Linked DNA regions of Homo sapiens. The protein of the gene in region 3 interacts with the protein of the main gene of each other region in a biochemical or structural test. Each region holds a gene or a part of one and is shown on either strand. Other genes may lie near its edges.

Evidence for each region.
Region 1: the proteins of BMPR1B (region 3) and BMP6 form a complex in vitro, tested with the Homo sapiens proteins (one study listed by BioGRID).
Region 2: the proteins of BMPR1B (region 3) and GDF6 form a complex in vitro, tested with the Homo sapiens proteins (one study listed by BioGRID).

What each region holds. Positions count from the first base shown.
Region 1 is NC_000006.12:7,860,464-7,871,053, reverse strand, and holds part of BMP6 (bone morphogenetic protein 6 preproprotein), read right to left. Parts: intron 9,604-10,590; coding exon 9,455-9,603; intron 8,754-9,454; coding exon 8,556-8,753; intron 1-8,555. UniProt on the Homo sapiens protein: Growth factor of the TGF-beta superfamily that plays essential roles in many developmental processes including cartilage and bone formation.
Region 2 is NC_000008.11:96,141,570-96,152,159, forward strand, and holds the end of GDF6 (growth/differentiation factor 6 preproprotein), read right to left. Parts: intron 3,956-10,590; coding exon 2,994-3,955; 3' UTR 764-2,993; downstream 1-763. UniProt on the Homo sapiens protein: Growth factor that controls proliferation and cellular differentiation in the retina and bone formation. Plays a key role in regulating apoptosis during retinal development.
Region 3 is NC_000004.12:95,123,438-95,134,027, reverse strand, and holds part of BMPR1B (bone morphogenetic protein receptor type-1B isoform b precursor), read right to left. Parts: intron 10,219-10,590; coding exon 10,122-10,218; intron 9,046-10,121; coding exon 8,907-9,045; intron 4,167-8,906; coding exon 3,974-4,166; intron 2,814-3,973; coding exon 2,516-2,813; intron 1-2,515. UniProt on the Homo sapiens protein: On ligand binding, forms a receptor complex consisting of two type II and two type I transmembrane serine/threonine kinases.

The DNA.
Region 1 (10,590 bases), on a different chromosome or scaffold from region 3:
GGCTTTGGACATGAGATGTAAATGGGTTTCCTCTCACAGTGTGGGACAGGCAAGTGGGGCCCATGATACAGGAAGCTTCTACAACTCCCTTCGGGGATGGAGATGAACTCTAAAGATCCAAGACAGGCCGGGCGCGGTGGCTCACGCCTGTAATCCCAGCACTTTGGGAGGCTGAGGCAGGTGGATTGTTTGAGGTCAGGAGTTTGAGACCAGCCTGACCAACATGGTGAAACCCTGTCTCTACTAAAAATACAAAAAATTAGAGGGGCATGATGGCACATGCCTGTAGTCCCAGCTACTCGGGAGGCCGAGGCAGGAGAATTGCTTGAACCCGGGAGGCAGAGGTTGCAGTGAGCTGAGATTGTGCCACTGCACTCCAGTCTGGCAACAGAGTGAGACCCGTTTTTTTTTGTTGTTGTTGTTGTTTTTTAAAAAAAAGATCCAAGACAGACATGCCTGTTTCCCCTAAGGAAGGTTCTTCAGCAAGACTCTCCATGATCTGTAGTGGAAAAGAAGGTGGCAGAGACAGGCACCATCCCCCTCAGAAGGAGAACAGAGTTGGGCAGAGAGGTCCCAGCTGTGGTGCCCAAAGCGTGTCTTTATGAAGCCTTTATGTTTCCAATACGTTGCCTTCATTTTTCCAATACTTTGCCAAAGGGAGGCTTGCATCTCATTTAGGCCTTCTGCACGATGCAATCAGTGGTAGAGAAACAGGTAGAAGTGTCCCATCCATTCCCGATGGCGGGACCATGTGGAAGTGCCTGCCATTTTCTACCATAAGAGACCGGGGTGTTCCAATCCAGAATTCACCTCGGAATAAAGCATCAGGTCCAGCCATGGCTCTGAAATCCCTCTCCCAAGCCCCAGGTGTGTCTTTCATTATCTGTCATTCCTCCATGTTACCTGGGGGCCAGTACACCTGGGAGGGGTTGGGGGCTAACTTGAAAGGAGCCATATGGAGGTGCATTTTTCTGGAGTCCAGCGGATGGGAGGGAGGACACAGTGATGGAGTCTTCTTGTCCTTGAGACACAACTGAGCTTTCACATCTGAGAGTCCTGTTCTGAGGGTGGTGGTGGAGGGGCCATAGCTCCCTTCCTGGGGGCCATCAGGGGTACATGCTGCAGCTCCCAGCACACACGCCTCTGGCTGATCCCCTTTCTCTGTCCTCTAGCATCTTCCTGCCCTTGCTCCTCCTGTTGCAGGTGCACGTTCCACACAGGCTCTGCTGAGCTCCTACAGTCTGCTCAGTTCTGGTGGGGAGTTCTCATCTCAGTTGCTAGGCCTTGGACCTGACAATCAGCTTCCTTGCTGATAGCCTCTGCTCCCCGACCTTAAGTCCTGGTCTCCCCTGTGATGACTGAGGAGACATTCCATCTACAGGAGAAAACAAATGGGAAGGCTGCCGGGGCCCATGTGACAGTGACGGGGCAGGGCATCCTAATCGTCCCAAGGCAAACTGAAAACTGCAGAATAGCTCTCTCATCCAGTGCAGTGAGGACAGGGCACCCTTGGCCCCAACAGAAGGCGGCTAGCTGGGCTGGGACTTCCTCACAGAAGCCATGTCCCCAGGCAGCGGCACATGCACTGTATACATTGCCTATACCCCCAATGCAGGGGTCATACCCCACACTAAGCATAACATCTGGGTTAATTCCATCCAGCATCCTTTTTATCTGGCCCTCCTGAAGAGCCACGCACACAGCGAAGTGCAAAGGAGCCCACTGTTGGTTAGCTCTGAAGCTCAATCCCTATATGCCATGATGGGCCAGTGACAGGCAGGCTTCCCTGGCACTGGAGGCCAGGAGAGGCCCATAGGTATGAGACCCAGAGGAGAAGGGAAGGGCGCAGCCACCATCCTGACTCTCAGGCAGGCATTGTGCGGGGAGGCTGCACCGCGGGGCTGGAGGGCCACCACGCAGCTGCTGCTGTGAGTATGACGGGGCTAGGGCGCTGCAGCAAGCCTGTGGGCTCCCAGGGGGGGTGCGCCTGAGTCACGGCAGCCAGAGCCAGCCTGGGTCCCAGTGACCCTGCCTGCTGTGCTTTGCAACTTCAGTAGAGGAGGACAGCGAAACAAAGGGCAAGACAGGGAGAAGGGAAACAAAGGCAGGGGAGAGAGAATGTCAGGGACACCACAGAAAGCAGGTGAGAAGGAGGGAGAGGGAGAGAGGTGGGGAGGGAGAGGGAGAGAGGTGGGCAGGGAGTCGTCTCCTCACCAGGGCTTCTGCAGAGGGGCCACTCGGCTGCCCTGGGCTGACCCCGCAGGCCCTGCCAGCTCAGCCGGGTGTCCCCGCTCAGCAGGTCACACAGAGCCAAGAAAATACCAGCATGGCAGGGGACTGGACAAAGCGGCATGCTCCACATGTATTTCCCAGCTTTCCTGAGCTCAGGCTACAGACTCTTCCCAAAGGAAACTTGTTTTTTAGAGGGAATAATTCACTACTTTAATTTCCCTTCTCTCCTAGAATGACAAGGGTGAGGGCCACATAGAGGTCGTTAAAGTGGCACCTCTGTCTTCATGGGCCTGGCCGCTCTTTCCATATCTCTGGGCCTTATCGGCCCCATCTTATCCAAAACAAGCCTCTCGCTCCCACTCGCCCAGCAGAATCAATACAGCCATTGAAGAACGCGCAGCAGGTGCCAGCTCCTTGTGTCACCGACACTACGGGAGGCCAGGGACCACACTGGGGTTTTGATTTCTGGTGTCAATAATCTCCTAACAGTTGATAGGGCTGGGGTGGGGGTGGACAGTTTGATCAGAGTCTAGATTTTGTTTATAATTTGGATGGTCAACATTGAGAAGCAACAGTGAGGCCCTATTTTTTGGTTGCTCCAGGAGATTTCAGGATCTCATAAGGCCCCATTTAATCTGGGTGGGACTTTGGTCTCTTTTCAGCCTTTGTCTTGATTCTAAAAGAATATGGAACTGTCCTGCAAATAGACAAAGATTTCCTTTAAAAACTTAGCTCTAAGACCCTCTGTGCTCTAAGCACCTTCTATACTCTCTGCCACTTCCTAGACTGAGTCTCCTGGCCCCAGTGCCCTCCCAGGGTTGGCAATGATTGGGAATGACTTAGGCATCTCACGGTACCTGCATAAGCTTCTTCTTATTGCCTTTTAGAATTGTTGCCATTTGCACATTTGCAAGGAGTGAACCTTGGGAGGAGGTAGAAGGGAACTTTCCAGTCTGTTCCACTCTTTGATAGCCATTATCCTCGAACAAGAGTTGTGCATGATAGAAGTGAAGCTTTTGATTCTAACTTTTTTTTGGTGATTCTAACTTTTAGATCACTATTTGCCATGACTGTCCTCCATGTCTATGGAGAATTAAGGTTTGATTTCATATAGGAAGCCCTGAACCAAACTCTACTTAAGACATCTGCAAGCCAAGCTGCAGGCCCTAAAAGTTTAAGATCACAATGACAAATCACAATTCCCAACTTTCCTGGAGAACTAGAAACTGCTAGTTCACAGTCTTGACCTGTGTCTATTCTTCCCAAGCTTTGAATGTCCATGGTGGACCGACCCAGTCAGCTCTGGCTATCCCCAATCCATGGAAGCCAATGGTGAAGTAGTGAGGACACTGTAACAATGAGACCCCCAGTCTGGACTGGATTTCCTTGAAATGTATAGCACAAGATTGCACAGTTATAATAAACTACTCAAACAGCTGTTTTGCAAGAGATGACTCCTGGTTAATTTACGCTGAAAGCCTATTGAATAGTCCCAACCGGGAAGCTTAAAGGACAGAAAATATAAACTATCAAGAAGAAGGTCAGGAGTATCCCTGAATGTACTAGAGCCACAATTTCCCCCAAGGTCCTTAAAGATACATGTTTGGGGGTGGGAAAAGGAGGGAAGGAGAACTTACTCTACAAAATGCTGGCCAGATGTGGTGGCTCATACCTGTAATCCCAACACTTTGGGAGGCCGAGGCAAGTGGATCACTTGAGGTCAGGAGTTTGAGACCAGCCTGACCAACATGGTGAAACTCCGTCTCTACTAAAAAAATACAAAATTATCCAGGAGTAGTGGTGCATGCCTGTGATCCCAGCTACTTGGGAGGCTGAGGCAGGAGAATCGCTTGAACCCGGGAGGAGGAGGTTGCAGTGAGCTGAGATGGCACCATTGCACTCCAGTCTGGCCAACAAGAGTGAAACTGTCTTAAAAACAAACAAACAAAAAAGAAATGCTAATAGGTGGCATTGATACAATGGCAGACTCATTCCAAAGGACAGACAGTGTCTCAAGAGGCTGCTGGGTCATAGATGGTTGGCAGAGCTGGGTAGTGACAACATAAACATCAAGACTGAAAGAGACTACTCCAATTTCACATGGATCATTAAAGTGCAGATAATGTTTCCAAACTCATCTATCAAAACAAAGACCAATTCTGCCTCACAGCAGCAGCAGCAGAGCAGACTTCAGACTTACCAGCTGACCTGAAATTGCTTTAGCTACACCCTCTCAAAAGAGGTCTTGGAAAGATCCGGAAAATTAGCCAAATGAAAATTTAGAATCACCCAATGGAACTTCAAGGCCATTTGTTCATGGACCTTGTCATGGATTGGCCAAGTGGTATCACAGTCCCCCAGAAGATAAAATAGTGAACCCCAAGTGAGAGCTACCATAAAAGAGAGTGAATGATAACAAGTAGAAGGAGACCACCAAACTGGAGCTATAGAACCTGAGGACAGGTGTTGCAAGAGCAGCAGGCTGGTAAGAAATGGAGGCTGAAAAAGAATTGGTAGATTGGTTAAAATCCCCAATGGGGCAAAGACGGCTAGGACCAGGACTAGTCAAACATGTGTAAAAACAATAAATGATACCATGCAGAGGCTATCCAAGCCCCTGGAGAAGTATAACAGAGCCAACCAACATCCAGCCTTCATTTAGAGCAGCCAGCTGCAGAGAAGCAAGGGCAAGTGAAAGCCATCCAGGGAGACGTCGATCCAAACCACTATCCAGTGCACATGTTTGGAAAGTCCAGCTTGAAAGCCAAGTACAAATGTTTGAGTAGATTTTGGTGGGTGGTGGGGCTCCTGGCCTCTCCACTGCTGTGCACTAGTCTTGCCGTCTCAGGCACTGACAGCACAATTCCAAAAATAGCCTCTTATTTCCTTGCCACGTTTCACCCTGATGACAGGCAATTTGATGAATGAATGCTAACTTCTTTACCCAGATGTAGGACGATCCCTGGTGGGCTGCTTCTGGTGGTGGTTGTTTTGGTGGAGAACTATCAACTCCCTGGGAGCACGCCATGGAAGAAGGGGGCAGCAGAGACAATGCAATCTTTTCCTTCCAACTTCCAAAAGATTTACAAGCAGAAAGTCTGCCTGCAGTCACGCCAGAGTACACCACTTTTCTGTTACTGTAATGTCTACCTGGTTCATGAAGGCCCAGCAACATCTGGCCTCACAGAGACCCCGAGGGAGAGGAACACCAGACAGGCCATTTCTCCAGGTAGCAGGCCATCTCTCTGGAAATCTTTTCTGGGAATCTCTTCCTCAGCATGTCCACTCCCATTAATGGAAGAATAGATAAGGAAGAAAGAGCCAAAAATATAAAGAAGCGCTTCAGTGGGCCAGACATGAGCAATTTCCCAGATCACTTAGAGGATCTTTGAAGAGAATGAGAAGGAGGGAGCATCCTTCATCGTCATTCTTTCTTGGGGGCCTTTAAATAGGTGAGACCGGAGAGATTTCGTATGAACCCTTTTGCCTTTGTACTACTGAAAGGGACAAAGCAAATTTGGAAGTACTGGCTTGGGAGGTGGGCGGGGGGAGACCACTGAAAAACAGAGATATTTGCACCTATTACTAATTAGATCAACTTGAATATCCATATTTAATTTAAACTCATCAAATTGAAAAAAGTTGAAAGGGACTTGGAAAATAATAATTGGTTGATATTGCTAAAATCAAAATCAGACACAACATCTTTTCTCAATTTAAAAACATTAGTGTGTGCATTGGGTGGGGGGTACTGAATAAAATCAAGTGAAGTTTTAATTTTAAAAAGCAATCAACATTTCAAGAGATGCCTCTGTGTCTGAGGTCCCAGCACCAAACTGACCACAGTTCATTAATAAATTGAAGCCTACCATTGGCAGACTTCCATTAATAAATTGAAGCCTACCATTGGCAGACTTCATCATCATAGCCCGAAGGAAAACACTGAGATTATTAACTCTGTTCAGCAGGCTGCCTCTGAAGTGAATAAAGGAAAGCAAGCATTTCTTCTCTTTTTCAAAAACCCCAACCCTGACTGTTTCTAGTGGTGAATACAGGAACACCCATGCTGTGAGCAATGCTTCCGAGAAACACCAGGATGACAAGAAGCAAAATGTCACATCACGCTGGGCGGTGGATCCTCAAGCTCCACATCCAAGTTACTGGTAAAATAGATGGTTGATTTAAGTCGGAACACAAAATGGAGACACTGCTTCCCAAAGAAGAAATAGGTACTTTGGGAAGTTGCATTAACTCTTCCCAACATGTTTGGCCACCAAAAATGACATTTCTGTACAATTACCTGGAAGAATTAATGCATCTTCCAGAATTATTTTACTTGTTTTCCAGGGATCCCAACATATGCCCTGAGAACCTACTTCCTACAATGGCATATAAATAATCTTTGAGTGCTATTATGAGCCAGATTTTGATGCTTTTCATTTAATTCCAGCAAATCTGCAAGGCATTCATCATCCCCATCTTACAGATGAGTAAATGGAAGCTGAAACAGATTAAATGTGTCCAAAATCACAGGGTAGCAACCAGGGAAACAAGTTCTCTGGCTGCAAATCCCACTGCCAATCTTCACCTTTATGGTTGATTCTCAAGCTATTTAAATAGCCAAAGGACCCCAGAATTTGCAAGCACTGGCATTAGAGTCAGAAGTGTCTGGGTTTCCATTCAATCCTAACTAGCTACGGGACTGGCTGTGGGGAGGGAACATCCACTCTCCCTTCCTCTGGGCTTCCATGGGTGGACTTCCATGCCACTTCCTAAAAACACACTGGGGAGAACTTTTTTTTTTTTTTTTTCGATGGAGTCTCGCTCTGTCACTCAGGCATAATCTTAATCTTGGCTCACTGCAACCTCCACCTCCTGGGTTCAAGTGATTCTCCTGCTTCAGCCTCCCAAGTAGCTGGGATTACAGGCACATGCCACCACACCCAGCTAATTTTTTGTATTTTTAGTAGGGATGGGGTTTCACCACGTTGGCCAGGCTGGTCTCGAACTCCCAACCTCAAGTAATCCGCCCGCCTCAGCCTCCCATAGTGTGAGGATTATAGGCATGAGCCACTGCACCCTGCCAGGGAGAACACTTCTGAAGGACCACTCAGCTGACACTCAGGTAGCAGAGCTGGTTTCTCTCTCTTGCCCTTTGAATGTGTCTGTTCTGAGCAGAATGGGACTCACCTTATTCCTTAGCTCCCGGGTGAGCACACAGTTCAGGTCTGGCCAATCAGAGCACTCCCCACCCAGCAGTGTGCTTCAGGTTGGAGGACGCAACCCCAGCCAAGCCAACCGGAGTCGTGCCCTGGATTTCTGCTGAAGAAGGGCTCTGTCTGAGGTTGAGGTTGCCAAGGGTAACAAAAATCCTGGAACCACTGGTTGCCTTCCTGGCCACCATATAGAGATAGTTTTACTAAGAATTCCACCAACAAAGAAAAATAGAAAAACAGAAAAAGAGAGAGATTCCTGATTATCATCTGAGCCCATGGATCCAGCCATGCCTAAAGACAGAACCCCTGGCCAGGCGCAGTGGCTCATGCCTGTAATCCCAGCACTTTGGGAGGCCAAGGTGGGTGGATCACGAGGTCAGGAGATCGAGACCATCCTGGTCAACATGGTGAAATCCTGTCTTTACTAAAAATACAAAAAATTAGCCAGGCGTGGTGGCAGGCACTTGTAGTCCCAGCTACTCGGGAGGCTGAGGCAGAAGAATGGCATGAACCCAGGAGGCGGAGCTTGCAGTGAGCCGAGACCGTGCCACTGCACTCCAGCCTGGGCGACAGAGGGAGACTCTGTCTCCCAAAAACAAACAACAACAACAAAAAAACCCTCAACCTCTCCATTAAATGAGCCAAAGAAATCCATCCTAGAGGGCTGAGTTGACCTTCCTTCCCTTCCAGCCAAGAGCACTGACAAATACAAGTTCATATTACACAACTGTACCAAGTTCGCTTGCACATCATAACCCCCCAGCATAACGCAACTAGAAAAAAGAATCTAGGTGCTCCCAGGGTTTTGATGGGAATTTAAAAAAGAGTTGGAGAAATGTAACCAAACAGAAAGATGCTTGTCTGGATCAACAGGCAGTCATGATGCGGGCAGCCTGAGTCTTCAGGTAACAAGTGTTCCAGGCTGAGGGCCCTCAGAACCCACGCAGATGTTCTGCGACTGTACAAGGTACCATCATGCATATGACACCTATTTGCCTTTGGATTTGCTGTGCAGAAGCTGCCCGACATCTGAGACTGTGGACACAACTTTTGTTCTCACTGAGGCCAACAAGGCTTTCTGGAAACACAGGCTCCCCACAAACCCACCTGAAGCACTGGAGACCCGCGCCACGTCCTGGGACTGGGTAGAGCGATTACGACTCTGTTGTCGGCGCCGGCTGGAGGCTGACCTGGTGGTGCGCACGTGCACCTCACTCACTTTGAAGAAAGCCACCATGAAGGGCTGCTTGTCGTAAGGGCCGTCTCTGCCCACCAGGCCTGCGGCTCGGGGGTGGACGTGGACTCCTTTAATGCAAATCAAAGCATGCATCTCTTTATTCCACAGAAACTTGTTCCTGTAGCTACAACAGTTAAGGGATACTTCCTAGTTTCCTAAGTGCTAATCCTTAAGAATGAGTGTGAAGAAGAAGATCATGTATCCCCAAACCTTGCCTGGCACCCATGGGATGGCATCTTTTGGCAGAATCAAAGCACTCCTTTCAAAGTTTCAGAATCACATGAAGGAGTGGCGTGAACTCCTGGGCTCTCCTGTTTCTGCTAGATTATGAATCTGCAGTTACCCTGCCCTCCCTGGTGGACAGATCAGCAGTGGGGACCTCAAGCTGCTGGCTCTGATGCTGCAGGAGGAGTGGGTACTGCAAACCTGTTCATCCGTCAGGATTTAAACAGATGCGCCTGCCTCTCTCTTACTCGCTGCATCCCCCGCAACCTGCCTCTGCCTAGAAAAGCTGTCCTCCCATCGCCATCCTCTTGGAAACATTACCACTCTCCTGTCTCCAAGTTGCCCAAGCCTGTTTTCAATTCCTGTCTAGGAGGCCTCCGGGAAAGGTTTTGGTTCTCAATGCAAGTCATGGGGGATCAGTAAATGAGGCCATCCTGAAGCTGAGGACTTGCCTGTTGCCCACGGTTCTATCACAACTGCTGTAAGGGAAATGTGTGAAACTGATGACTTGCTGGACGTTGGAGGCTTGCGGATAATAACTTACCATCCCTTGTCACCACGCTCAGCTGAAGCCCCATGTTATGCTGTGGAGTCACAACCCACAGATTGCTAGTGGCCGTGATGTCAAATTCCAGCCAGCCTTCTTCTGAGGCCCATACTACACGGGTGTCCAACAAAAACAGGTCAGAGTCTCTGAAAGAAAGAAAAAATGGCCTGGTAAATAGCGCACTGCCTGAAGCTCCTTCCCACTCTTTCCTGTCTCAGCGTCAGGATAAAACATGCCCGAGTCAGATCACATCTACCTGTGAGGCACAAGCACAGTGACTTGCCATAGCCCTGAAAGGCGTGGTACCACCCAGGACACAGGCATGACACAATTAGGAGAGACAGGCACATCTGATAAGGCGCTTCATAGAAATCAGCTTTCACCCCGACACGGCAGACCCTCTCAACTTTACCAAAAATCTTGCTAGTGCTGCTTATGACAGATCTTTTTGCGAATTAGGATAAATTACAAATAAATGATTTTTTAAAAAACTTTTTTATTTTTTTTTTTTTGAGACTGGGTCTCACTCTGTCACCTAGGCTGTAGTGCAGTGGCATTTACATTTTAATACTTCTATTATGTTTTAAAAATTTATTTATGATACTATTAGTGACTAGCTTACTTTATGGCTAATAAGCTCTAAAAACAGGGAAAGTAGGAGACAGCGAGAAACAGGATTGAGAAAAGATAAAAATCAGGATCCATATGAGCATTTATAAACTGGGCTTTGCTCATTTTTTCTTGTTTTGAAATTGGGACTGAAAATCTTCTCGTTTGTTCCTATGAAATAAGGAGAAACAAGAAGCCACATCGCATGCCTAAGTAATCATCTACTATTTTAATTAAGGCCTCTGAATGGTCTGCAGTGAGTACCCAGTCCTTCCCCATATGGACTGTGTAGCCGAGGGTGGATGCTGAGTGATTTTAAAGTTCATCCCAGCACAGTGGTGAGCTACAGCTGGGGTTCTTTGAGGCAAAGTCAGAGAATCCATTCCTTCCATTAGGCCCTTCAGGGAAGACTGACTTTTTCACAGTTTTGAACTAACATAATCAAGGGGCTGTGGGATGACGGTGTGAGGGTCTCCTTCTGCTCACCTGCATTTTATGATAGGTCAGTGCCAGGAGATGGTCAT
Region 2 (10,590 bases), on a different chromosome or scaffold from region 3:
TTGTAGCTAACTGCACATTCCCCACGTCAATATTTAGGGACCAATCAGAGAGCAGGTAGATGATCTGGGGACAGAATTGTACAGTGGTTAACTCCTCAGGCTCTAGAGTCTGAATGAACTAATTTTAAATCCTAACTACAATTCCCTGGCTGGATGCCCACAGGCAGGTTACTTAAATTCTCTGCACCTTGGTTTCCTCATTTGTAAAATGGGGATTATAATAATATCTACCTCTGAGGGTTTTAAATGAGATTCTACATGTGTAGAATAACATCATGCCTGATAGAGTGAGTGCTCACATTCACACATGAGTTCCCCAATTCACAGCAAGCACAGAAAAACATTTGTATCTTCTGCTTCCAGTATGCCACAAAGGTAATGAGTAATTACACTGACATCTTGGTTGACTTAGGTAACCACTTTCTTACCTCAACATTACTGCTTTGTTTTTTTCAACATTAAAGCAACTAAGAAATAATCCAATTTCTATTTGGATTCCTGAAGTGCTGGGATGAGGGACAGGCTTATAAACACTGGTCTAATAGGTGACAAGGATTTGGCTTTATTCTAGTAATAAAAATGTCATGAAAAAGGAGTTATTGAAGAGTTATGAAGAAAAAGTGTAATGCTCTAAATGATAGATTTTTAAAATCATCAGTTTGTTTTCAGGCATTGAGTCCCAAACTGGAACAAACTACCTCTGACAATAATTCTGTGAGAAAAGGATTTTTCTAAATCGATCCATATAAACCAGGCTGAGTTATTAAGGAGAAAAATGCGTTTAATAATATAGCATTCGATTGCATATCATCCAGGAAAGGTGTACTGTAAAAAATGTTTTGATTATTCATTGACCTCTGGTAACTTTAGCGTTGTAAATACTTGTATTATATGAGGTAGACAGTTTAAAAAAAACTCTCCATTAGACAGACTTAAAATTTTGTAATAATATTTAAGAAAATGGTAACATTATGAAAAAATGAAATATCTGATTAATGCTTAACTTTGTACAACTCGAATATAAACTTTAAAAATATTAGAAATTATAACATTTGAGTGCATATAACGTTTTGTACATTAGGATGAATTGCATGCTGTCCATTTCCTCTTTGCACTTTCAGTCACCTTAAATAAACAAATATATACAGCCTTAACAGAACAACAGTGCATCCAAAGCAAATGTGCATTTTAAATTATTTCTCCTGGCCAAGTCTTTTTTTCACTTAGCATTTTTATATTAGCATTTCTTATCATCCCCACCCTTTCTTTGACAGTTTGTAGTTCTCTGAACCAAACAAGCAACAGGTTTAGATTGGAAGAGAGCAAAATCACTTAGGAAAAACTAAAACTTTTTAAAAGGCTGGTACAAATTCCATTGATTAAACAATTTTATAGTCAAAGATGAGGAGGAAGCTAACTCTTCAAAGGGCCTACTCATGGGCAATGTTTGAAAACAATACTGGTGCAGGCTGGGGGAAAGTTCATGTTTTTGACTATCTGGGAATGGGTATTTCAATTTCACTGTGCTCTCTCCAGCTTCCTCCCAGAAGACGAATTCCACCCCTGTCTCCTTCCTCACTGCCTGTTCCCCATCTCCCACCCCAAGCTCAATGTAACACTTGGCTCTTTTCACAGTTTCTCATTACTAAGTTTTAAAAACATTGCCTAACTGATAATTACAATCTGAACCAATTCTTTTGGGGGAGCCCTGGGCTATTGCTGGCTGGTAATCTTTCAGGAATGTCAAAGAGAGGGGAGGGAACTCAGATTTTAAAGAAACTTCAGAGACAGGGACTTGTGTCCCCTTTCATCCCTCCCTTCCCCACTCCTGGCTCCTGGCCTGTCCCTTGATCCCCATCCTCCCTGAGGCCCACCATCTTCCCTCCTGATGGGACTCCTTCTACTTCTTGGTTCCTTTTCCCTCCTTTGTAGCTCTTACGTTAATTGTTTTGTTCCCCACTCCTGCCCATTTTTTTGAACTGGAAAATCACCTTCCCCTTAGAAGTGCATGTCTGAATTTTGGCAAATTCTGTTGAAAGAAATCAATTAGAATCAGAAAGGGCATTTGGGTGGGCTACCTCCAGCCTGGGCTAATGCACCTCCGTGTCAGCCCCAGTCAGAGGCAGGCCTTGTGGTTTCTCATTATCCTTCAAGGGGTTCCATTTGGACTAATTCTTGTCATTCCATCCATACCAGCTCCCCTTGCCCCCACCAGAAAAAGCAACAATGAAGGCAGAGACCTGGGCCCTCAGGAGTGAGATGAAGGTTGCCAGTTCCTGGTACCGAAAGAGGCCAGGGCAGAGCTGGTAAACTCACAGAGTACACAAATGGGTGAGAGGGGCACCCGTGGGCCCACCTCTCTCAAAGCTCTTCTATAGGCAGGACCATTCCTGACTTAACTATTCTTTTTGCCAATTTCCCTATCTAACACTTTCTGTGTGGGAGGGCACAAGACATGGGCTATGACATGGCCAGAGACCCCACCTTCTTTACACATGTAAAAACCAACCAAATCAAGATGCGTCAACGGTGATTCTTCCTCCCACATTGTTTCCCTTTTTAAACTGTTATTTTTTCAATCCATGGAGCAGTTGAGAAACGGGTATGCATCTCTCCTCCCCTCCCCTTCTATCAAAGCCTGTAAGACACATAAGGAAATCCAAAGCCACAGTAATAGAGAGAGAGAGAGAGAGAGAGAGAGAGAGAGAGAGAGAGAGAGAGAAAACAGAACAAAAGAAATCCTCCTTGGCTTGTTTTTCCAGGGTGGCCAGGCAAGGTGTGAAAATCCATATTTCCCTCTGGGCTGGCAGGTAGAAGTTACTGGGAAGGCTGCGCTCCCTTCTCTCCCACCGGCTCTCACATCCAGGCTGTTCCCTCACCCTCAGCCTCCCCCAGCGCCAGCTTCCTCCTCCGCCTCTCTGCAGCCAGGCCTCCCCTGCAAGGCGGACCTTGGCCCACCTTGGTTCCGGGCCAAGGCGGCGGGAAAGGCACCGCTACCTGCAGCCGCACGACTCCACCACCATGTCCTCGTACTGCTTGTAGACCACATTATTGCCCGCGTCGATGTATAGAATGCTGATGGGAGTCAATTTGGTGGGCACGCAGCAGCTGGGCGGGGTGGAGCCGGGGTCCATGGAGTTCATCAGCGTCTGGATGATGGCGTGGTTGGTGGGCTCCAGGTGCGAGCGCAGCGGGAAGTCGCATACACCCTCGCAGTGATAGGCCTCGTACTCCAGGGGCGCGATAATCCAGTCGTCCCAGCCCAGCTCCTTGAAGTTCACGTGCAGGGGCTTCTTGCTGCAGCGTAGCCTGGACTTCTTGCCGTGCCGCTTGCCATGGCGACTGGCGAAGGCCGTGCGCCGCCGCCGGCGGCCGGGCGAGGGCAGCCAAGGCCTGGCATCCGGGGCGCCCGACGGCGGCGGCCACGACCCCTCGGCGCCCGCGCCCGGGCCCGCAGCCTCGGCCGAGCCCAGCTGCTCGCGCATCTCTGCGAACAGGTTCTTGCGCTGGGATCTGGTGAATACCACCAGCAGGGCCCGCTCCTGGGGAGGCCGCACCCTCCGGCCGAAGCCCAGACTCCGCAGGTCCGGGGGCGGCGGTTGCTGGGGTCCCCGCGCGCGCGCCTCGGCCTCCCCGGCGTCCAGCTCGCCCCATGCGGCCCGCAGCTCCAAGCACAGCTGCTTCCAGGGCTGGTGGCGCAGGCCCTGCCACACGTCGAAGACTTCCCAGCCGGCCGGCGGCGCCCCCTGCGGGTCCAGGGTCCGCGCGTCCAGCAGTAGGGGCGAAAGGCAAGGGAAGAGCTGCACGTGGAGCGGCCCGGCTGGTGGCCCCCAGGGCGCTGAGGGCGCCTGGCGAAAGAGCCGCAGCTCCGCGCCCACCAGCTCTTCTTTGTCTGAGAGCATGGACACATCAAACAAATACTTCTGTCTCCGGAGAGGAGTGTGCGAGAGATCGTCTGCGAGATAAAAAATAATTACAGTCAGTTTCACTTAAGGGGGAGATCAGCCCGGTGCTCTTCGGCCGCCCCGGGAGGAAAAGGGCGGGGAGTGGGGGCAGGTCGGCCGGGCAGTCCAGCTTGCCCGGCCCAGGGCCTGACCACCCCGGCTCCCCATCTGGCTGGTGCATGGCGCGGGGAAGGGGGCGCGCCAGGACGGGCCCCCTCCTTCGCGTCAGCTCCGGACTCTCAGGGCGGAAGTCGGTGGCTGCTGGCGAGGCGGCGGCGGCGGCCTACCGGGTTTTCCCCCCAAAAGGCTTCGTAACCACTAATGTGCCCTTTGTGGTCTCAAGCCTGGGCCGCGTTTCCCCTAGACCTCCTCTGGGCTGGGCTGGCTCGTTCTCGTTGACGTCTCAAATGTCACCTCCTCCAAGTAGCCACCCCTGAGCACCCTGATCTAAGGTAGCCTCTCCAGGTCTCTATCACAGGACTGGCTTGATTATCTTCCCAGTACTTAGGATTATCTACAATTACCTTGTTTACTTTTATCTCCTTAGTAGTCTGCCTTTCCCAGTAACACTCTGTCTGCCTCCACCAACCCACGGGAGCTAGGCCGATGTCATTGTCCACCTTGCTCCCCTCAGTGCCTAGGGCGGTTCCTGACCTGGAGCACACGCCGGTCAGGTAAGTGGGAAACTTCTACGACAGCGAATCTTAATCTGGCCCACTAAAATGTCCTGGAGAACTGAAAAACTGCCAGGACCAGGGCTTGATTCAGCCTATTGAATCACTGTCTAAGGACAGGACTGGCCATGGGGTTTTTGTTTATTGTTTGCTTTTTTTTTTTTTTAACTCCAAGATGACTTAAAGGTGCAGTTCTAGTTTAGACTCACTAGTCTGGGGTAACATTGCTGCCCATCAGGCGGTTTTGGTGGGTCCAACACAGTGCAGGCAGAATGAAGAGCTGGTGAGAGATTTATTTATTTATTCACCAATCATTAAACAACAAACAAAAGAGCAATGAAGTTTCAGAAGTATTGGGGGCAGGGGGTGACAAATGAACAAACACACACACCTTGCATCTGTCCATTGAGAACATCCTGCAGTCAATGAGAAAAATATATACCTGGAAGGCAGAAAACTGGAAGGCAGAAAACCTCAGCCAGGGACAATTAGATACACACACACACACACACACACACACAGAGAGAGAGAGAGAGAGATAGAGAGACTTTCCCATCTCTCCTCCCACTCCCAATCTAAAATTCTCTCACTTTGCAACTATTCCTGAAGATAAAAGTTTTGGTCATAAGTGAGAAAAAGAAATTTAGGACAGGTGAGGTAGGGGAGTGTAACAGGCTTTTAAAATCCAAGGCAAATTCTTCAGAACCAAGGCAAAACCGGACTTCTTTTTTGACACATTTGTGCATGAAGCCAACTCCACTTCAATGTGCAAGGCGGAAAGCTAACCAGATTTTCCTGGGCTGCCTTCCCATAAAATATTTACAACCCAGCAAATACAAAAATCCCCAAAGCCCCCAGCCTTCCCCAGAAGCTAGTAAAGTTTGGGTCGATTTCAATAGTAAAAGTGTCACTGGGCCCAGCATCCAACCCTCTCTACCAGTCCAGATGTAGCCCGGGGGCACTGGCTCTGGAGCCTCTGCCACACCCAGTTTGTACTCGGGGCTGACCGTAGCACTGGCTGGTTCACTCTTACGCACATGCCCCAACCTGAGATGGGGTGTGGGAAGGGTTAGAGAGGTGAAAAGGGAAAAGCTGCTGCAGGCAGTTGATTTATGGAAGCCAAGACCTTCAAACAGACCAGGGTCACATTAAAATCAGGCGGAATTCAGCACACTTTCTTCTCCTTCAAAGAAACCTGTGTCTGACAATGCTCAGCCTCCACCCAGATCTCTGGACGTACTGCCTTAGGCTTGGCTTCCTGCCTCTCTCCCCAAACTAGGGATGAGATGAGAGCAACAAATCTAAGGCACTTGCTGCACTAGCTAAATGTGGTTAGGAATAACATATTTCCAATCTATATCCACCTGCACAGAACAGTTCTGAAAGGTAATTACTTGTATTATTCCCATTTTACAGATGAGAAAACCAAGGATTGGAGAAATTAAGGTATTGCCAAAAGTCAGACAGCCAGAAAGTGGTGAGGCTAAGAGCCATACTTATGTCTATTTAATTCAGAGTTGGAGCATTTAGCCCCTAAACCCCACTGCCTCTCCACTGTAGTCCAGGTACTGGAGTCTAAAAGTAACCAGAAGTGGCCAGTGTATAAGAAAAGGGGAAAAGAGTCCAAATTATTTGCAGGGCTTGCTAGGAATAAAATCTAGGCTCCCTTAGGAAATCATTTCCATCTTTGCTTACACAACTCTTGAGATGGTTTGCCACTGGCTGGAGTGCATTAGGCAGGTGTAAAGAATTATGATTTACTTCTCTCTCATGCAATATGGGGGAAATCAGCCTGCTTTTGTTTTTACTCTTTTAAAAAAAATGTGTGGGCTAATAAATGATTAATTTGCACAGCTGAGTTAAAACTGAGGCAAGCATCTGTAGAGAAAGATCTCCTACTGATTCTGCAGCCTTAGGATTTCTGATGATCTTTCCAGCAAGACCAGCCCACCCCTACCCTTTCCACGTTTCAGTGCAAGAATGCAAATGGGACTTCAGCTTCTTCTCTCTTCTCTTTCCACACTAGCTCCATCACCTACTTCAAGGGGCCTCACCTGTGAGCATGTGGCCATCCCAGCTGACAGCTTAAAGCTGTGCACAGTTTCACAGGTGCACACATCAGTGGTTCGATCTACCTTTGGGGGAACTGAATGGATGAAGAGGCTGTCCAGACCCTGCAAGTGAGCTCAGGGATATTTGGGCAAGAATTATATGGCCCAGGTATCTGGAGCTTGGTCTGGAATAGTGACTCTCAAAGCCACTAAATCTGCAGTGGTCTTTAAATCTGCATCATCAGCATCACATAGGCGCTTGCTAGAAATGCAAATTCTCTCTCGCTCTAGAGGCTTGTGGTAGGGTCTAGAATTTGTATTTCTAGTAAGCTCCCAGATGATGCTGATTCTGCTGGTCCAAGAAATTACTCTAAGAACCACTGATCTAACTGGGGGTTGTCCTCTAGGTTCTTTGAATTCACCACTGAGTAGGGGGGAGCACCAAACAAGGTGCTGCAAAGCACAGGGCTCAGGGCAGCATCTAAGGCAGTACTCACCAGGACCAAGTCAATTCTACCTCTCCCAGCCCATTCGTGGCCCCCAAAGCCACCCCCATTTTTTTATCCTTTCAGCCACAAGTTCTCTTGGTTCTGGGTCTCCAGAACCTCTAACCCCTAAACAGAAGGTCCAAGAAGGTGGCTCCTCTGTGCAGCTCCCCTGCAGACCACATTCCCTACCTGTCTAAACCTGCATCACAGAAATAGCTCAGAGGAGGCATCCAACCTGGGGAGTGAATACAACACCATGCACTGTTACCCTGAAGACACTTTGCCTGCTGCCTGCTGACCTGGCATCACAGAGCCTGGCTCAGCTGCCATGAGCCATCTGTGGGCAAAAAGCCAGCCCTTCATACTCCGTTCCAAAAGCCTCCTCTCCCATTAAGTCTTGTATAAATGAAGACTGATGTCATCAAATGATCCTCTCTCCCACCCCTTTGACTAAAAAAACATGCACTTGTCACTTGAAAATCTGTGGCACTTTCCCACATCCTGGAAGTGAATCCTATGCTTTGGGCCCTTAAATTGAAATTGACCAGAAATACATGGTGGGAGTTTTTTATTTCCCTTTTACTTTGCATCAACCTGGTTTGTTACAGCTTATTCACACCTCTGTTAACGGTGTTTGCTGAACATTAGACATATAAACATTTCCAGTTACAATTGCTGGATTAGGGCTTATCTTCGTTTCCTGGCAGCTACGTAGAGAAAGGAGGGTGAAGAGAGAAAAATAAGAAGGAAGGAACAAACCGTGGCATGTTAGAAGATACTCCTTCATAATGGTCAACGAGTTGGTAAAAGGCTGAAAGCACCTCAAACATATATTTCTGGTGTAGAATTTAGGAAAAATTTAAAAGAGGGGAGATGTTGGTCAAAGGGTACAAATTTTCAGTTAGGGTGAATATAAGGTAAAAAATAAAATTTTAACTAAAAAAAGAAACCAAGAGAAGGAATGGTACCTATTTGCAAAGTAATTACCATTGCACCCATTTTAAATGAGAAAACTGGCCTAGAAAGGAAAAGGGCATCTGTCCACGGTCACAGTACGTGGCTGGAGAAAGTTGGAGTGGCAAACTCCAGAGCGGAAAGGAAAAGATGCCCGCAACGCCAAAGGCCAGACGCCCGGGGAACCTGAGCCCCAAGAGGGCGGCATGAGGGAGGGACACGTAGCTGCAGGACTCTGTGCGCTTGCCCACTCCAGCCTGCCCACTCCAGCCCCAGAGCCTTCTGCTGGGGGCTACTTCCTTGGGCTAGCCTGTAGAGGGTTTCCAAAAACCAGAAACTTCCTTTGGTTGGAGGTGGGAAGGGCCTGGCATTGCATTTTCCCAAGACATCTCTGAGATATATACTCAGCTTGAGGTCCCTTTTGAAAGTCCTAGTTGGATTTTGTCACTCGCCTGGCTGTGCACCCACGGCTCCAACTTCCCGGACTTGCAGGATTCTTGGTACGGCTGACTTTGGGCTCCACGAGATTCCTCCGCGCGCACCTGGCTCACATCTCTGAGTACGCAGTGACCCTGGATAGCTACTGGCCAGGCGTCCCGCCACGCCTCCCAGCCATGTTCTCCGGTGGCACAGGCCCCGCGACTAGGCCACTGTCCAGAAAGTCGAGAAGATAGTGGACTTTCCCATCCCCAATCCCCAGGCAGGGAGAATCACCCATCTTTGCAAGAGAAACTCTAGGCGCCTTTCCCTTACCCCCTCATTTTAGAGCCAGCAGCAGCATTGAGCGCTTGTAGGGCACCACCTTTGTGCTAGGCACGTGCTCAGAGCTTTGATGGCCTCTCTCACTGAATTTTCACAGCGAACGTCTAAGGTCAGGCCTACTGTGATACTCACTTATAGATGAAGAAACTAAAGCTCTAAGAGGTATCTTGCCCATTGTCTTGAAACTAGCAAGGGACAGATGTTGAAGGTCCTAATTCCAAGTGCCCTGACCCCAGTCCTGCAGCGCAAGAGACAGGTGTTGAAGGTCCTAATTCCAAGTACTCTGACCCCAGTCCTGCAGCCATGCTGCTCTACCAGGGTCCTGTTTTGGCAGGGGGCCAGGAAATAGGACATAGCTTCATCATTAGTGTAATCAAGGTGGGCTGGGTTCCCCCAGGATTTTTTTTCTTTTCTTTACTACAAAGAAGACCTCCAAGCTCAAAATTCATGACTGGGCTTGGAGTCATTTTCTCAACTAAGTCTCTCACCTTCCGCGCTGCACTGAGGGGGCAAAGTCCATCAGGTTGGAAATAGAGCCAGGTGTACTGGGTGATTAAAAATGAGCCACCAACCCCTCCTCCTGGAGTGTGAAGGGCTTTAAGGGGAATCTGTGTGCCAACTATGTACCCTCTTCCTGAAATACAGATCTCTTGGGCCTCCCCCTGAGGAGATACTCATCCTGAGTCAGGCCTCTGTTGAGATCTGAGCTTTGCAAGCTGCTGACGCATTGCTAACATTCTTACTGAGATGTAAGTTCGGGAAGCAGTCCATACAATTCACCCTTTCCAGGGTGCTTTTTCTTAACCCCAATACTCATGCCTGATCCCCCAGCATAATAATCGTTAAGAGCAAACACTGGTGTGGCACTAAATCTGTTCTGGGCATGATCTAAATTCTTAACTTGTAGTAACTCATTTAATTCTCAAAACCACTTCTGAGACAGCCATCATTCTAAACTAAAAGAGACAGCTTGAGTAACTGGCTCAAGATACTAAGTAGTAGAGTGGGCAATCTGGCTCCAGTATCTGTGCCACCACCCTAGACATCCCAGCCCTGATCTCTGTGCCTTGTAGAAACCCTGAGAAACTCTTCCATGCTGCCCATGCCTGGAGGGAGGGCATCAATCCCTGGCCGGCAAGAGTCACTCACTTCAGCAGAACTACAGCAGTCATTACTTCAGCAGAAGAAATGTCGATGATTGGACTTGTGAAAGAGAATTTAGGAGGAAAATTAACAGGGCCACAGAGGGGTGCAAATGAGATAAGGTGTGAGAGAAAGACTTCTGAATGCAAATGTCAGTCACTACTGACAATGTGGAATGAGCATAGGAATTTAAAGTCTAAGAGACATAAATTTGAGTCCTGATCTGTGACTTAGTGGCTGGGTGACCTTGGTTAGACTGGGTCGCATAATCTCTCCCAGCCTCATATGCCTCAGCTGTAAAATGAGAGAACCACCTGTACCTTGCAGGATCATTGTAAAGGTCAGAGTCAAAGTACCTCAGGGATGTGCATAGTACATAGAGACGTCCAGTGAATGCAGCCAATATTTCTGTGACTACTTACATCTTCTAGGGGAAGGTGCACCTGTCCTTCTCTTGACTTCCTTTGAAATCCAGTTCTCTGGACTTCAGTCCTTGTGGTCCACTTCTCTCCACAAGATTCCAGAAGTGAGTGGAGGAAAGGTGCTAGGAAGCATGAGAAAGATGAAGACGCTT
Region 3 (10,590 bases):
GGGGGGAGGGATAGCATTAGGAGATACACCTAATGTAAATGACAAGTTAATGGGTGCATCACACCAACATGGCACACGTATACATATGTAACAAACCTGCACGTTGTGCACGTGTACCCTAGAACTTAAAAGTATAATGAAAAAAAAAACAGCAGGTGGGCCAGGCATGGTGGCTCATGCCTATAATCCCAGCGTTTTGGGAGGCTGATGCAGGAAGATCACTTGAGTCCAGGAGTTTGAGGCCAGCCTGGCAACATAGTGAGATCCCATCTATTAAAAAAAAAAAAAATTAGCCAGGCATGGTGGCACATGCCTGAAGTTCCAATTACTCAGGAGGCTGAGGTGGGAGGACTGCTTGGGCCTCGAAGGTCAAGGCTGCAGTGAGTTGTGATGGTGCCACTGCACTCCAGTCTGGGTGACAGAGCCACTCTTTGTCTAAAAAATAAAAATAAAAAAAGGTGTCTCAAAGGAAGAAACTGTGAAGATCAGTAGTTGTGATCTAGATACAGAAGGGGATATGGGTGTTCGGGTAATGATAAAAGCATGTTATAAACACTTGATGGTATGAGAAGTGTGAAGTCTTCAGAATAAATCTTGCCAAAGGTAAGAAGTGTGGTGGAAATAGGGCAGAAGAATAGCCCAGGGTCAGAAAAGAAAAGAGTCCACTGCACCAAGGGACTCTAACTACATTTTAATACGAAGCCACAGGAAACTATGAAATTATTTTGATGCCCAAAATTAGGCTTCAAGAAAATAAATTCAGTGGCAGCATGTACAGAAGACTGGAAATAGGAGAGACAAAGAGAAAGTAACTCAAAATGCTTCACCCCAGAATCTAGAAAAATGGTATAGAAGGCCCACACTGGCCCAGTACAAATGGGAATATTGTGGAAAGAAAATTCATTCACTTGAGCAAACCAAAAGTTAGGGAACGAAAGATGATGTCAGATACCTAATATTAAGAATGGATCAGCCAAAACTGGGAACTAGGAAGGAAATGCAGATACAGCAGGAAATCTAGCAGTCGGAAAATATGTAAGAGGTAAAAAGAGAGCAGAGCCAGTGGAGAGAGAGAAAGGAGAAGTTGGAGTACAGAGATACACCAAGAAAACAGGAGAAAGAAAGGTTTGGACACTGTGGATAGGGTGATGGCAATAGAGAAGGCCTCTGGTGACCAAGCCCAGTGGTGTCTCTGAATACAGCAGTGTCCAAAGAGAATGGAACAGAAGCCAAATTACAAGACTATTAACAAATTGCTGGGTTTTCGAAGCAGATGATCTTTTGGAACTCTTGGGAGAAATTTAACAGGGTGAGAGAAGGAGAGAGAGGCTGGTAATTTAAGAAGCATTGTGGGATTTTTTTTTTTTATAGGAAGACTTGAAAAGGGTTGTAGGTCAGAGGAAAAAAAAATCAGAAGGGAGAAAGGATTTAATAATCTTTATTGGCAGGAGGTTCATATTTCTAACTTAAATCTATAGCCCAAATCATTTCCTCTTGCTTTGTTTTTAAAGATCAAGAACTTCAATTTCCCATCCTTTACATGGTGAAGACCTTCATATATTTGGGGTATGTTATTAAATCACACCTCAGCCTTCAGTTCTGGCCGAAAATACCAATCAATCAGTCTTTTTTTGTGAATTTTACTTTCCAAACTTTTAATAATCTCCATGACTTTTTCTTTGTGCTCCTCTCCATGTATTACAGAGTCTTACTTAGAAAAATCCACAAGATGATCCAACATTTATTAATGGCTAAGCCTAAACTGAGTTCTTTAAAAGGTAGTTATACGATGATTTCTCTACACCAGTGGTTTGCAAGCTCATTTTGTTTTGTTTTCCAAACAGAGAAACCATTTATTCGAATTAAATCATCTGTGAGACGGAAGGAGCCTCTCTGATTAAAGTAAGAGTAAGCAAAATAGAGTCCCAACTATCATCTCCCCTCCCTACTGTGAAGAAGCTACTGATGTAACCCAAGCAGCCCTAAGGGTCTGAAAACCACTGTTTTACAACATGCTCTGGTTTATGTGCACAGATGTTAAATTCACTGTTTCAGGTACAGGATAACAGTACTGAATAACAGCTGGGTTTTGTTTATTAGTTTCTAACATTTCTCCCAAAACATCTATGCAAGTTATCTTTCCTATACCATATAAAAATTGTCTTTATCCATATATAATCTGTAAATTTTCCCCAAAACTTTTTCCTACTTGCAAATGTTATGCAGAATTCTGACTACGTATTCCCAGGAATTAGCTACTTCTTTTCTATATAACTTAATGACAGCTGCAAACCTAATGTGAACAGTCTCTAAGCAATGTCTCTGATGAGCATAGAAACAATAGAACAGACCCAAATATGCTGTGTTGCTAATAAAATGTTTGGTGGTTCTCCCCGTCAAATGTCAAAATTAATGATATTCCTCTTCTACTAAATATCCTAGAAGCACTGCGCTACAAAATAAAAAGTAACAGAAAAGAGTCATAAAACATGTATTTGTTCACTTTGATACTAACCTAATAAATTTAACAGCCAGGCCCAGGTCAGCAATACAGCAAGTTCCATTTTTCTTCACCAGAATGTTTTTACTTTTCAGATCTCGATGGGCAATTGCTGGTTTGCCTTGAGTACTAAAGATTTCTGTGTGTAAATGACATAAGCCACTGACAGAAGAGTAGGCTAACTTCAGCATTGATTTAGCGTCTAGGGTGGTGGACTTCAGATAATCATAAAGGGAACCATTTTCATGATAGTCTGTGATTAGGTACAACTGGGTCCAGGACCCTGTCCCTTTGATATCTGCAGCAATGAAACCTAAAAGGAAAAAAGATGAAAAGGTTTAGTGTTTTCCAAATAGTATCAGGAATAATTCATATTCTCAAACATCATTCTTTGTCATAGATAATTTTTGTTTAGCATTTCATTCAATTTCCTGACTATGCCTATGATGGTATTAAATGACTAATACCAATAAGAAGCAATCAAAATTGTACAAGTAAGGCTAGGCACAGTGGCTCACACCTGTAATCCAAGCACATCGGGAGGCCATGGCGGGTGGATCACTTGAGGTCAGGAGTTCAAGACCACTCTGGTCAACATGGTGAAACCCCATCTCTACTAAAAATACAAAAATTAGCTGGGCATGGTGGCATGTGCCTGTGATCCCAACTACTCGGGAAGCTAAGCAGGAGAATTGCTTTAACCTGGGAAGCAGAGATTACCGTGAGCGGAGATCACACCATTGCACTCCAGCCTGGGTGACAGAGCGAGACTTTATCTCAAAAAAAAAAAAAAAAAAAAAAAAAGAAAAGAAAAGAAAAAGAAAAAAACCTGTAGGAGTAGAGAAAGATTAAGAGTTTACATCTGAAAATATGGTCCCTTCCTAATCAGTAGTTGATGTTTAAACTACTTTATGGTATTACAAACTACTATGGTATATAAACTACTTTATGGTATTATGGTTACACATAAGACATTGCAAAACAGGGTCTTGAATTCTTGAATTAAGGAATATACCCCACTGATTAGCTTACTCTCCTTCTACTTGAACGATCCAGACAGATCATTTCTAACTTGCGAAACAAAATCAATTCTCAATATAAACTATTGATATAAATAAACCCTGCAGATAAGATTCCTACAACTTTTCTCAACATTTAAACAAAAATAAGTTCCTTCAAATTCCTAAGAAACCCTAAGAAATTCTGGTTTTACACTCGCATTTCCTGTTTCTGAAGAAAAAATATTTGAGAGTATTCCATTTCCAGCCTACCACTTACTCACAGAAGTGCCTTAGTCATTCCTCCTGTGAGGTCTCCCATTAGAAACTTATGATGTTCTTGGGCCCATGCCAAGAAGAAAACTTCAATACATTTCGCAACGGGTCTAGACAGATGAGTTAACATGCAGATGTTAACAGAAAGACAGAGGAAAGCTAGGAAACCCTGAACATAGCTATGCAGACTTTTACTCACCCAAAATGTTTTCATGCCTCATCAACACTGTCTGATATATTTCTGTCTCTCTGAACCAGCTGGCTTCCTCTGTGGTGAAGAACACTTTCACAGCTACCTTTTCGCCACGCCACTTTCCCATCCAAACTTCCCCATAGCGACCTTTTCCAATCTGTTTCACCATCTGAATCTGCTTAGCTATAGTCCTTTGGACCTGTGAAATCCCAAAACACACTGTTAGTGTATTCACAGCGCTACAGATTTGTTTAATCTTTTTTTCTCCAGAGAAGAAACGATTACTGCATGTAAAATATATTTAGCTAGTATTTTTCTCTATATAGACAACTTATTTGTATTTATTTATTAATTTATGTTACACTCTTTTAAACATATTTGAGATTGAGTGTGGATTCTGAATGTTCAAAACACTGCTTCCAAATTATGAAATACTTTATTTTAGTATTATTATTTTCTCAGAGAAAAAACCTGAGTAGGCTCATAGTAATCAGCAGAGTAGAATACTTGCACTTCCCCGTTATAATGGACTACTACATACTCTGAAGAGACTCGTCACCATACACCTAATCATGTATAAATATAACAAAACAAAATTGTAATGCATTGTTAGGCACATACAGAAATAAAGGAAATCTATATGCAGGGAGGAAGAAAAAAGGGAGGGAGGGAGGAAGGAGGGAGGGAAGGAAGGAGTTGAGACCAGACCAGGGAACGATAAACCAAGCTGCCGTCTGGGCAAAGAACAATACCAGAACTGGAATCCAGAGTTTAAACTCTGACTCCTTTAAAACCAGAGGAACTGAACCTAGGGCTTCAGCATTAAGCAGAGAGCATCAAATGGTACTAAATTTGCTATGGGTTGGTAGCATGCCAAGGCTCCTCATTACAAATGCTCTCTCTTGAGGAAACCATTTGCAGAATACTTTTCATGCCGTGACTATGGCGGGATAATAGTACTTTGAAGGAACTCTTGCCACCATACAACTTGATCATGGGTATAACATAAGAAATAAACTGTAATGCACTCCTGGGCTCACAGGGAAATAAAGGAAATATCCAAGAATGGGGAGGAAAAAGGAGAACAAAAAAAAATGGAGGGAGAGAAGAAAGAAAGAGAATGAGAGAAGATTATAGAGAATGAATTCTTTAGAACAAAGAAACAGTCACTATAAATGAGAGTCAACAGAAACAACCCAAGTAGATTTAACCTCTTCAGATTACATACTGGAATTCTGAGATACAGAATGCCAAGTAACTCTAAATGAAATGAAAATTGAATAAAAAATAAGCAAGAAAAGATTAATGGAAATTACATTTTTGTAATGAGACAGTTAATTGTCACAATAAAAAATGCAAAACAGGTAGACAAACCAGCATATTAGAGAGAAAAGTTAATAAGAGAAAGTAACAAGTTGGAGATAATATTATTTACCAAGCTCTAAGAGAGCTCTGAACAATATTATAAAGAGTGGAGTACAGACAAAGAGAATGAAAATATGAGTTAAGTGGCATTAAATTTAAATGTCTCTTTATATATGATCTTCATCACATCTGTACTTACAGTAAAATATTTGAAGAACTCTGATATCAATGGTTCCAAGATTGAAAGGGCTAAGCATCTATTACAATTTATATAATTTAGAGGACATAAGGAATCTAGCGTATAACTCTTATAACACCTGATCAGCAAACTGGAACGTATTCTTTGTAGAGATATACTTTACACCAATTAAAAACTTAAAGTTTTTCTTTTTGTACTTTTAAGAGCCATGCAATTACATTGGGCCACCCCAGATAATCCAGAATGATCTCATCTTATCGTCAGCAACCTTTGCTCACCTTTGTCATAGAACATAAAATTCTAGGGATTAGGTCTGGGCACGGTGGCTCATGCCTGTAATCCCAGCACTTTGGGAGGCTGTGGAGGGAGGATCCCTTGAGTCCAGGAGTTCAAGACCAGCCTGGGCAACATGGCAAAAACTCAGCTCTACAAATAATATGAAAATTAGCCAGGTGTGGTAGCACACACCCGTAGTGACAAGCTACTTGGGAGGCTGAGGTGGGAGGATCGCTTGAGCCTGGGAGGTCAAGGCTGTAATGAGACAAGATCGCACCACAACACTCCAGCCTAAGTGACAGAGTAAGACCTTGTCTTAAAAAAAAAAAAATCCTGGGGATTAGGGCATGAACATTTTGGGGGGACATTATATATTATATATTATTTATAATGAAGATTATAAATTTCGTAATTTATTAAAAAAGAACTGCTGATGTACCATGAAGCCACTGAAGCTTGATGGAAATAAGCAAGCAAGTTTATGTGTAATGCAGCCGTCCTCTCTTTAGGAGCCCTGTGCGCCATGAGACATCATGTTGAGTCCACTGTACTCCATTTCCAAACAAGGAAACAGGAGCAACATGGGCACCAGTTGGGAGCCAAATTCATACACAGGGAAATCACTCATTTGAGAGGAAACTTCCCACATTTATTAAAGAAAAATATTTAATTTACAGATCTTACAAAGCATTGCTCATGTAAGTCTATGGAGAATTTCCTAACATAAGCAGTTTTGCATCTGCTTTTTTTTCTAACGATAATACATTTTATAATTTAATTATAAGTTTTGACAGAATTGGCGATACTTGATAGAATAGGAACAACTTATCCCAAAGACAGAAAGTAAGCTATTATAACATGTAAGGACCTAAAAATATAACTTCAAAATTTTTTAACTGATTTATTTTAGTTTTTATTTGATTTAGCAAATGTTTCTGGTCCTTCTGTACCTAAACTTTAATTCTATATTACATTCTTAGATACCAACTTTTTAGATTGATTGTATAAATAAAATGCCTGTAAGATACAATGACTATAACTGTACTTTCAAAAAGATCACTATATTTCATGTACTCTGAGAATAACTGAATGTATAAGGAGTTATAAAGAATTATCACTATTCCAGGACTGTGAGAAGACATACACAGAACACACACACACACACACACACACACAGTCTTAATTCTTACAACAGCCCTACGATATTATTTCCTTTTAAAGTAGGAAAAAATTGACATTTTATGAAAAAGAAAAGATGCAAAATTAAAGGGCACGTATAAAGTCATTTGTTAAACACAAGGTCCAAGTATGTGGTTATATATAAGGCACTAATTTGCCCATTATGTTATTAAAATTAATAACAAATCAATGTTAAGATGAGGTATTCACTCACATATCAATATATGGAGAGAGAACTGTATACCTCTGCATTGTTTATCTTAATAACCAAATCTTAAAACCAGAAAATAAATCTGTAATAGAGACTTTTTCTTTATTGAACTGAGTTTTATAGAACCCTCCTTCCCATCCTACCGCCATCAAATGCACTTTCTTGTTTTATTTAACCAACATTTAGTTCACATCTCACTAATGTTAAGAGCACAGATCATCTGGGTTTGAATCCTGGCTTCTCCACGTACTAGCTAGCTGACCTATCTGGGCCTGTATCCCCTGATGTGTAATACAGGGTTATACTGATATTTCTGGTACTACCTTATAGGGTTGCTATGAGGACTAAATGAGAATTTGATTTAGTTTTAAAGGCCAATGTCTGGCCAGGATTGGAACCCAGACAATTTGGCTTGAGAATATATGCTTTTAATCATTATATGATGTGAGCCAAATATTATTTTTTGGTATCTGGATTATAGAAACAAGACAGTATTTTTATAGCTATTAAAAGTAGGAGCTGAAAGCTTTTTAAAAACAAATTATTGAACAGCGCCTATAATAAATCAGCCACTCTACTGGGGATAGAAAGTGAGCAAAATGTAACCTCTACCCCAAAGAGGACAGACTCCACCAAAAGACACAAGAACATTACCACTAATTATAACATTATTTTAAATGGCCATTATTAGTGCTAAAAATAAAATGTTATCACAGAAGATAAATAGACTGGCTTAGTCTGGGGTAACTGAGAAGTTGTCACAGAGGTAAAACATGAGGTAGGCCTTGAGCCATGAGTTGGAGTGATGTCCAGTAAAGAGATTACATTTGCAATGACGTGGATATATGTTGTATTTGAGAAACAATTACTCAAAGGTGATGCTAGAGCCCAGGCAGCATACTGGGAAGAGGTGGGAGGAGACGTCAGGAAGGCAGGTTGAGTTTATGTGCCACACATACCAAGCTGGGAAAGAAGACCTGCAAGCAGTATTGGGTATTAGGATATTTTACCCAGGACATAACAGTGCAAGATCAATGGTTTTGGAGAAAGAACTCCACAGTAATGGGAAAGATGAGTTTGAAGGCAAGAAACACTGGAAGAACTCAGTTTAAATTCCAAGAGCATCTAATTCATTAATACCAAAAGGGATTTTACTATTTGTACATCTCTTTTAGAAAAAAATAAGTGTAATACTATTGATTTTCAAATTGTATTTGCTCATATATTCTCTTCAAGGTTGGCAGTGCTGACCATCAGAAAATGAAGCTTCTCCTGAATGGAAAAGCCAGAACTTTACCCTGAAACATAAACCCCACAGCTGAAAAGCAACCCTCTTTCTTTGTAGAAATACTGAGAAGCCAGTTGGTTGTAATACTTTAGCCTTCAAAAGCCAGGCCAAAGTGCGGTAATGCTATCCTTATGGAAAACACAGGGAAGATGGTCCCGTGTTTAATGTTTTCTAATCTGCTCTTCATCAGAATGTCTGAGGGTCTGGATTGTAACCATACACCTACATTAAAAAACAATCACCTTACTCTCAATATGTCAAAATGTTATCAGGAAGCCCTGCAGCTGAGATCGGATGTCCAACAGACTGCATAGAGCTTTCTCCTTGTCCAGTGCCCTATTTCAGTAAGTGAAACCCCATATTCATTGACAGTTCTTTCAGAAAACATTTCCTTTAAATTCAAGATGTGTTCTTCTCATACCAGCAGAGGGAGGCCTGATCCACTTCCTGAGCTCTGAGACTGCTCAATTAAGTCTCTCAGGGATTCTCCAGGAGGAATGTAAGTTTCATCCTGTTCTAACCCAATGCTGTATCGAGGTCTGGTTTCTTGTCTTTTATACCTAAAGATGGATAGATGAAGATAATTTTAGATAATGAAATGCAATGATGGAGTAAAATATTGCAACTAAAATGGTAATCACAGCAGTTTTATTTTAGCACCTAAATATAATACATTAAATGCTTCATATTTTTTACTCTTAGTTATGGTTTCCCAAGTAAAACTCATTACTGTTTGGCTAACCTATTTTTTAAAATAAACTAAATAAACTACATATTTTTACTCAGTCTCAAGCATCTACAATTTTTCTTCTTTTATTTATTTCAAATTGCACATATCCAAGCAGACTACATTCTACTAGTGTTTCTAAATAGCTCCAATATTATTCCTTAAAATCTTTTCTAAGGTCCCTAATTAATTAAAGATGTAAATTTTGGGTGTACAAAAATCATTATAGCTAACTCTCTTATATAAGGTCATATCTAAAGAAATAATATAAATTTAATCTTTAAAAACTTTTTGTCAATACTTAAGTTTTCAATTAGAAATGAATTTATTTGAATCAATTAATCTGACCATTTGCAGAGTATCTCAAATGAGTAATAAATTAATCAAAAGGCAAATGACATAAATATCAAGGTCCTTAATATTTCACAATCTAGAACATAAGTTCATAGGCCATTAAAAAAATAGGAATTACCGAATTTAATATAATAAAGGACCTTATTTTAATGATTAATCTATAAATTATGTTTAAAATCTTTTAATAATCAGAAACGTTATAGCTTAGAAAATAAGGAATTTGAGCAACTCTTAAGTTCAACATGGCCATTTCTCTGCTTGGAATCAAACCTAAGTAACAACCAGTCTCTGAAGTCTCTAACTACCCTAGTTTCCCTAGGGATAAAATATTTATATGGGTAGTTTTGAAGTCTGAAGCAGAAATGAGATAGGTATCTATTTGTAACTTCATTAGGACAAATATTTATCAACAGTAACAGACATTTTCAGTTAACTATAAGATCTAATTAAGATAAATAAAGCTGTGGTGAGAAACACTAACAGGCAAAAGCAGAATATTAGTAAAAAGAAGACACTATAAATTAAAAATTTTGCATCTACATGTTAGAAACTTACCGGAAGTAACAAAATAATATGATAAGGACCAAGAGCAAACTACAGACAGTCACAGATATAAGTAAAGCCCTGTGGTGTATAGGTCCATCAACAAAATCTGAAATTAAAAAGAAAAAGAGCCATAATCAAGAGAATATTTTTACTTAAAAATAAGAAAGTAACTCTTTCCTAAAGGTACTTGCTAAGTATCACGCACAAAATGTGAAAGATCCTTTTCACATACCAATTAATTTTTTAAAAACCCATATATACTCAAAATTAAATAAGTTTGACTAGCGTGAATCATCCTTCACCTAGGCACTTAATCAAGAGCACACATTTCTTCCTGTCTGGAAGGAACAGGCTCGACACAGGATAAAACTACAGAAAGAACATCAACAAAGCTAAGTGGGTCTGTGCACCCACAATAGAAACAGGTAGTTCATCTTTATTACAGACGCAGCTCATGGGTTCATAGGCTCTTCTCATG